Regions from separate parts of the Homo sapiens genome. Here region 1 is linked to region 2. Evidence: fine-mapped expression QTL. Tissue or cell type: unexposed skin. Region 2 holds a variant in brackets; the other region holds the start of a gene. All regions are shown on one strand. Distances are between the middles of the regions.

Region 1 (2,611 bases), 87 kb after region 2:
CTCCGCCTTCCCCTCCCTTCTTCTTCTCCTCCTTCGCTTCTTCCACGAGCTCACTTCCTGCTTTGGCAATTAGCAAAGCCCCTTCGCTGCGCGTCCCTCGGTACCTCCCTCCAGAGGCGCGGGGCGGGAGCCGGGGTGCCGCGACCCGGGGCTGGGACGCAAGGCGGGGCCCCGAGTGTCCCGGGCGTCCCCAGCGCCCAGAGCGCGCGTCCTGCCCGGTACCCACGTCCCCCTGGGCGGGTCCTAGCGGGGGGCTGACACGACTGCCGCCCGGGACAGACTGCGAGCGAAGGACTGGCCTTAAGAAACGGCTGCAGTCGCGGGTCGCTTTCCTGGCTCCCTACTCACGCCCTCAGCTGAGACACCAGAACTCCCCTTACACAGGCCTGGGCTGAGATGCCCGCCGGCGATCTGATATTTAGACAAATTTCCTGATCTTTAAGCAGGCTCTGCCGCTGCATGATGGCACACGCTGGTACTTTCTATTTTGATTTTTCTTTGGCATTAGTTACTACATGACCTCCAGGGTGAGTGCTGCAGAAAAGGAGTGAACAGAAGTCGCCCAATACACACTCACAGCTTCTCTAGAAAAAACAGCTTCGGGTTCTCTCAGAAAAGATGGCTTCAAATATTTAAAATATTACGCTTAAGTGGGGTTTTATACCCATTACTTAAGTGAGAACACGTTGGAATTGGTTATGAAGAATATATTTAAGATTGCTACATTTTAACTAAAGCTATCATCCATCATAAGCCTATTATAGGAAGGCGACAGGCATTTTAAATTAAATAGGAATCTTTGAAGAGCTCTAAATAATCTTTCTCTGCCTTCACACATAAGAACAGAAAGATAAAAGTCGGGTCGAAAAAGATAATAATAGTATTTAGTGTATAATATATCCAAGAATTATCGTAAATAAGCAACCTCTGGCTAAAAACTCAGCTCTGAGAAATCCAGGAAGACAGCAAATGCCTACATACCCTCTTGGTGACCAGGAGCTTTAGTGCCTCTCCCCATCTGTTTAGTCGTCCTGAGGCCCATGGCGATGTTGAGTTTGGCTTCTTAATTCTCTGGAGTTTGCCATGGAAGAAGCAACAGATTGCGAGAAGATGCTCGCTGGTTGTCTGGCCAGAGTCAAACCTTCTAGATGAAAGCTCTCTGGGGAATTTGTAGGTGGGAGGATAAACTTCCTCTTGGTCTGCCTTCGGATAGGAAGGGAAATTTTTTTTAAGGGTATTTTATCTTAGAATCAATTTGGAGGTTTGGTTTGTGGTTCTTTCTGTACTTCTCATGGAGATGGAATTATTCTGACGTTGGCCGTCAGGAAACACTAGTTGAGTGAGCTTGTTAGCAGCCCAACCTCAAGCATTGCTATAAAGCTGGTTTGCTTTTTGAAACTCTGAAATGTAATTCATGTTTTTATCATTCCCATTCTGCATTATATCAAATAGAAGATGGTGGTATATTTTAAGGGTTTTTTTTTTTAAGGAAGATTGACTAGTTACGTAGTTATTACTCCCTTTCATTTTCATTTCCTCGTGCCTCCTTTCCTATGAATTGCAACGATCCCCATCATTACCTTTATTTTTCCCATGTGCTTTGCGAACTATAAAGTATGACGCAAATGGGTGCTATTGTTGTTTTGCACTTTACAAAAAAAGTAATTTAAAAATGATTCGCATTCACCAGAGTTCCCATACAATCAATTTGCTGTCACAATGTCCTTCAACTTTTATTTCTTTTGCTGTCCAAGAGTGTTTTAAACCACTATTGAAAATAGACATTTTTGGGCTGGGTGCAGTGGCTCACACCTGTAACCCCAGCACTTTGGGAGCCCAAGGCAGGTGGATTATTTGAGGTCAGGAGTTCGAGGCCAGCCTGGCCAATGTGATGAAACCCCACCGCTACTAAAAATACAAAAAACTTAGCTGGATTGGTGGCACATGCCTGTACTCCCAGCCACTCAGGAAGCTGAGGCAAAAGAATCGCTTGAACCTGGGAGGTGGAGGTTGCAGTAAGCTGAGATTGCACCACGGCACTCCAGCCTGGGCGACAGAGTGAGACTCTGTCTCAAAAAAAAAAAAAAAAAAAAAAGAAAGAAAGAAAGAAAAGAAAATGGACATTTTTAACATTTCCCGATAGTACCCAAACACTCAATCTCAGAGTCATGTGAAAAATTTCATATTTCCATAACTTCACTGCTCTTTGAGTGACCTCCAATTTTCCTTTTCCAATAAATGGAGATAGTGCATTTGGTAATCATGGAGTCAAATATGCTGGATTTCGCTGATGGACCTGTCACTCTAAGGTTGTGTTACATTAAGTAAGAAACCAAAACTGAGTCTGCAAGTGTCTGCAGGATTGTGAGAATTCACTGAAATAATGTTTATGTGAAAATACTGGCTGGGCATGGTGGCTCACACATGCAATTTCAGCACTTTCGGAGGCCAAGGTGGCAGGATTGCTTGAGGCAAGGAGTTCAAGACCAGCCTATGCAACATTTTGAGACCCAGTCTCTACAAAATAATTTAAATATTAGCTGGATCCCAGCACTTTGGGAGGCCAAGGTGGGTGGATCGCTTGAAGTCAGAAGTTCGAGATCAGACTGCC
Region 2 (2,760 bases):
TTCACATTCCTTCTTGACCTGTGGTTGTTTCAACATCCGGAGAGGCCAATGAAGGAAGAAGAAGAGCTCTAGAAGTGCCTGGAGGGGTCTCCACGCTCCCGCTTGGGCCACTCCTCGTCCACCCACCTGCGCAGAACCTTCTCCACGTCGGCCCTGTGGTAGAGCCTGCAGAGCTCCATCAGCTGGCCCACCGTCCTCTGACTGTTCCGGAGCAAGAACTCCAAGGTGGGGCTCTGTGGCCTCTGCTCCAGGAAGCACAATTCGTCATAGGACATCCCCCATTTGCTTGCAAAATTCCTCCAGTTTTTCACCGTTGGGTGACACGGATCCAGCTTTATCCTGATCACGTCTAGTAAGTCCTGATCATTGAGCAAGTCACTTATGGTGGGGGCCCGGAGCAAGCAGGAGGAACAAGTACAGTTTTCTTTGCAGGAGTTGTCCTTGCTGATCTCTGCAGGGAGAAACAATTTAGTCCACAGGTCAACAAGAGGCCTAACATATGCATTCATTTCTTACATCCTTTATTTTCCTGCTGAATTGTCAAAAGCATCATATGGAAGACTATTTCAGAATGCTCGTTTCTTTCTTTTTTTTTTTTTTTTTGAGATGGAGTCTCGCTCTTTCGCCCAGGCTGGAGTGCAGTGGCACTATCTCGGCTCACTGCAAGCTCCGCCTCCCAGGGGTTCACGCCATTCTCCTGCCTCAGCCTCCTGAGTAGCTGGGACTATAGGCACCCGCCACTGCACCCGGCTAATTTTTTGTGTTTTTAGTAAAGACGGGGTTTCACCGTGTTAGCCAGGATGGTCTCGATCTCCTGACCTTGTGATCCACCCGCCTCGGCCTCCCAAAGTGCTGCGATTATAGGCATGAGCCACCGTGCCTGGCCTCAGAATGCTCATTTCTAATAATGTGTTACTGTTCTTTTTTTTTTTTTTTTTTGATACAGGGTGTCACTCTGTTGCCCAGGCTGGAGTGCAGTGGCATGATCTCGGCTCACTGCAACCTCCGCCCTCCAGGCTCAAGCGATCCTCCCACCTCAGCTTCCCGAGTACCTGGGACTACAGGCACGTACCACCAAACCTGGCTAATCTTTTCTTTCTTTCTTTTTTTTTTTTTTGGTAGAGGTGGGGTTTCACCATGTTTCCCAGGCTGGTCTTGAACTCCTAGACTCAAGTGATCTGCCCACCTTGACCTCCCAAAGTGCTGGGATTACAAGCATGAGCCACCGCACCTGGCTGTGTTATTCTTTATAGCCAAAGATGAATTGCTTTGCTAGAAGGAGTAAGAATTTTTAAAGCCAGTTTCCCTTTCTTTCCAAGACTGTCTATGTCTTACAGTGTGCATTTGTGACACTGCTGGCCAGAATAAGGGCTCCAGCAAACAGAACTCTCTCCGGGGTAAAAGGGGCTGCTGTGTCTGTGAGTAACCAGCCGACACTTGCATGCACCTCAGCCCTTGCCCTTTCCAAGTGACCAGTCAGCCCTGACAGTTTAACACCAAACACAGCCTGTCAGCCTGTAAAAAATGCACAGTTCTTTGAAAGGTCTTTTTTTAAAAACAACAACACAGACATGAAAACTGGAATATCCACTCCATATGCATATTTGAAAACAAGTGAGAGTTGATAGTGCCAGGAATCTTAACTTTTTAAATTTATGGCCCCCTTAT[G/C]AGCCCTCTGCCTTTACCTGTGTTTTCTTCATCCACAGGCTCCCTTTGAAGTGGCGCCAACACCCTGGGGTGTGTGCAGTGGGAGGGAAAGAGGCAGAAAACTCAGCAGGAGGCTTTTCAGCTGAGCTTCAGCATGAAGAGCATGCGCCTACCCCAGAGGAAGGGCCATCTTTCTACTGAAACTTAAAGACTCAACTGTAGCCTCATTTGATTAGCAGGAGGTATATTTGTAGGAGGATGAAGTTTGTAGGTGAGAGGCGTTGACAAGTCATTTGCAATAAAGTATTAAGTGGTGTCTAAACAACGTGGCAAATTAAGGAGCTTAAATTCTACAACAACACTGAGTCTCATGAACCCTCTGAATTCAGATTTTAACAGCCAAAGGTCACTTTAGAGACCACTGGCTTGGAAAATTCTGGGGAAGGTTATAGTAGCCTTTACTATATATATAACATTGAGTCATGGCCTTCCCAGTTTCGGAAGGTAAAGAATTTGGACCGACGGAGTAACTCTGGTGATCATAAGGGAGCAAACCAGCAATATTGAGGCAAGTGGAAATTAAAAGGTAATAAAACAAGAGCCTTGAAAATAGGCTCATACTCTTTGACCTACTAATGTGACTTCTGGGAATCCACCCTAAGGAGATAATCCAAAATATGAATTTACATAAACATTGTTATCACGGTGTTATTTACATTATTAAGTTTCAAAAACAACCAAAATGTCTACAGTTAGAGGACTAGTGAAATAAATGATTGTGCTACTTGATGGAATATTATTTAAGTAACTATGAAGACAATATGGCAACCTAGAAAATGTTTGTGATGTTATGTGAAAGATGGAAGATAGAAAGAATGTATGAATTCTACGATTAGAACTACATGAAAATCAATGAGTGGATAAAGAAAATGTGATATATATATATATATATATATATATATATATATATATATGGCATACTTAAAAGGCACACTGAGATTATATTAGGGATTTTGTTTTGTTTTTTGAGACAGTCCCACTCTGTTACCCTGGCTGGAGTGCGGTGGCACAGTCATAGCTCATCATAACCTGGAACTCCTGGGCTCAAGCAAT

Evidence for each region. PIP is the estimated chance that this variant, and not a neighbour inherited with it, causes the effect.
Region 1: EDARADD starts here. The variant in region 2 is fine-mapped to the expression of EDARADD in unexposed skin (GTEx, PIP above 0.99).

Annotation. Positions count from the first base shown.
Region 1 is chr1:236,392,876-236,395,486 of GRCh38, reverse strand. It overlaps EDARADD (EDAR associated via death domain), which reads right to left and starts at 1,201. Exons shown (of 6, transcript NM_145861.4): 1 at 982-1,201. The coding sequence starts at 1,042. RefSeq lists a silencer at 1-329 and an enhancer at 530-579.
Region 2 is chr1:236,479,958-236,482,717 of GRCh38, reverse strand. It overlaps EDARADD (EDAR associated via death domain), which reads right to left. Exons shown (of 6, transcript NM_145861.4): 6 at 1-451. The coding sequence ends at 69. Among named protein-coding and RNA genes, the nearest start is that of LGALS8, 43 kb to the left of the region's middle. The variant G/C (reference allele first, on the strand shown) is at 1,669.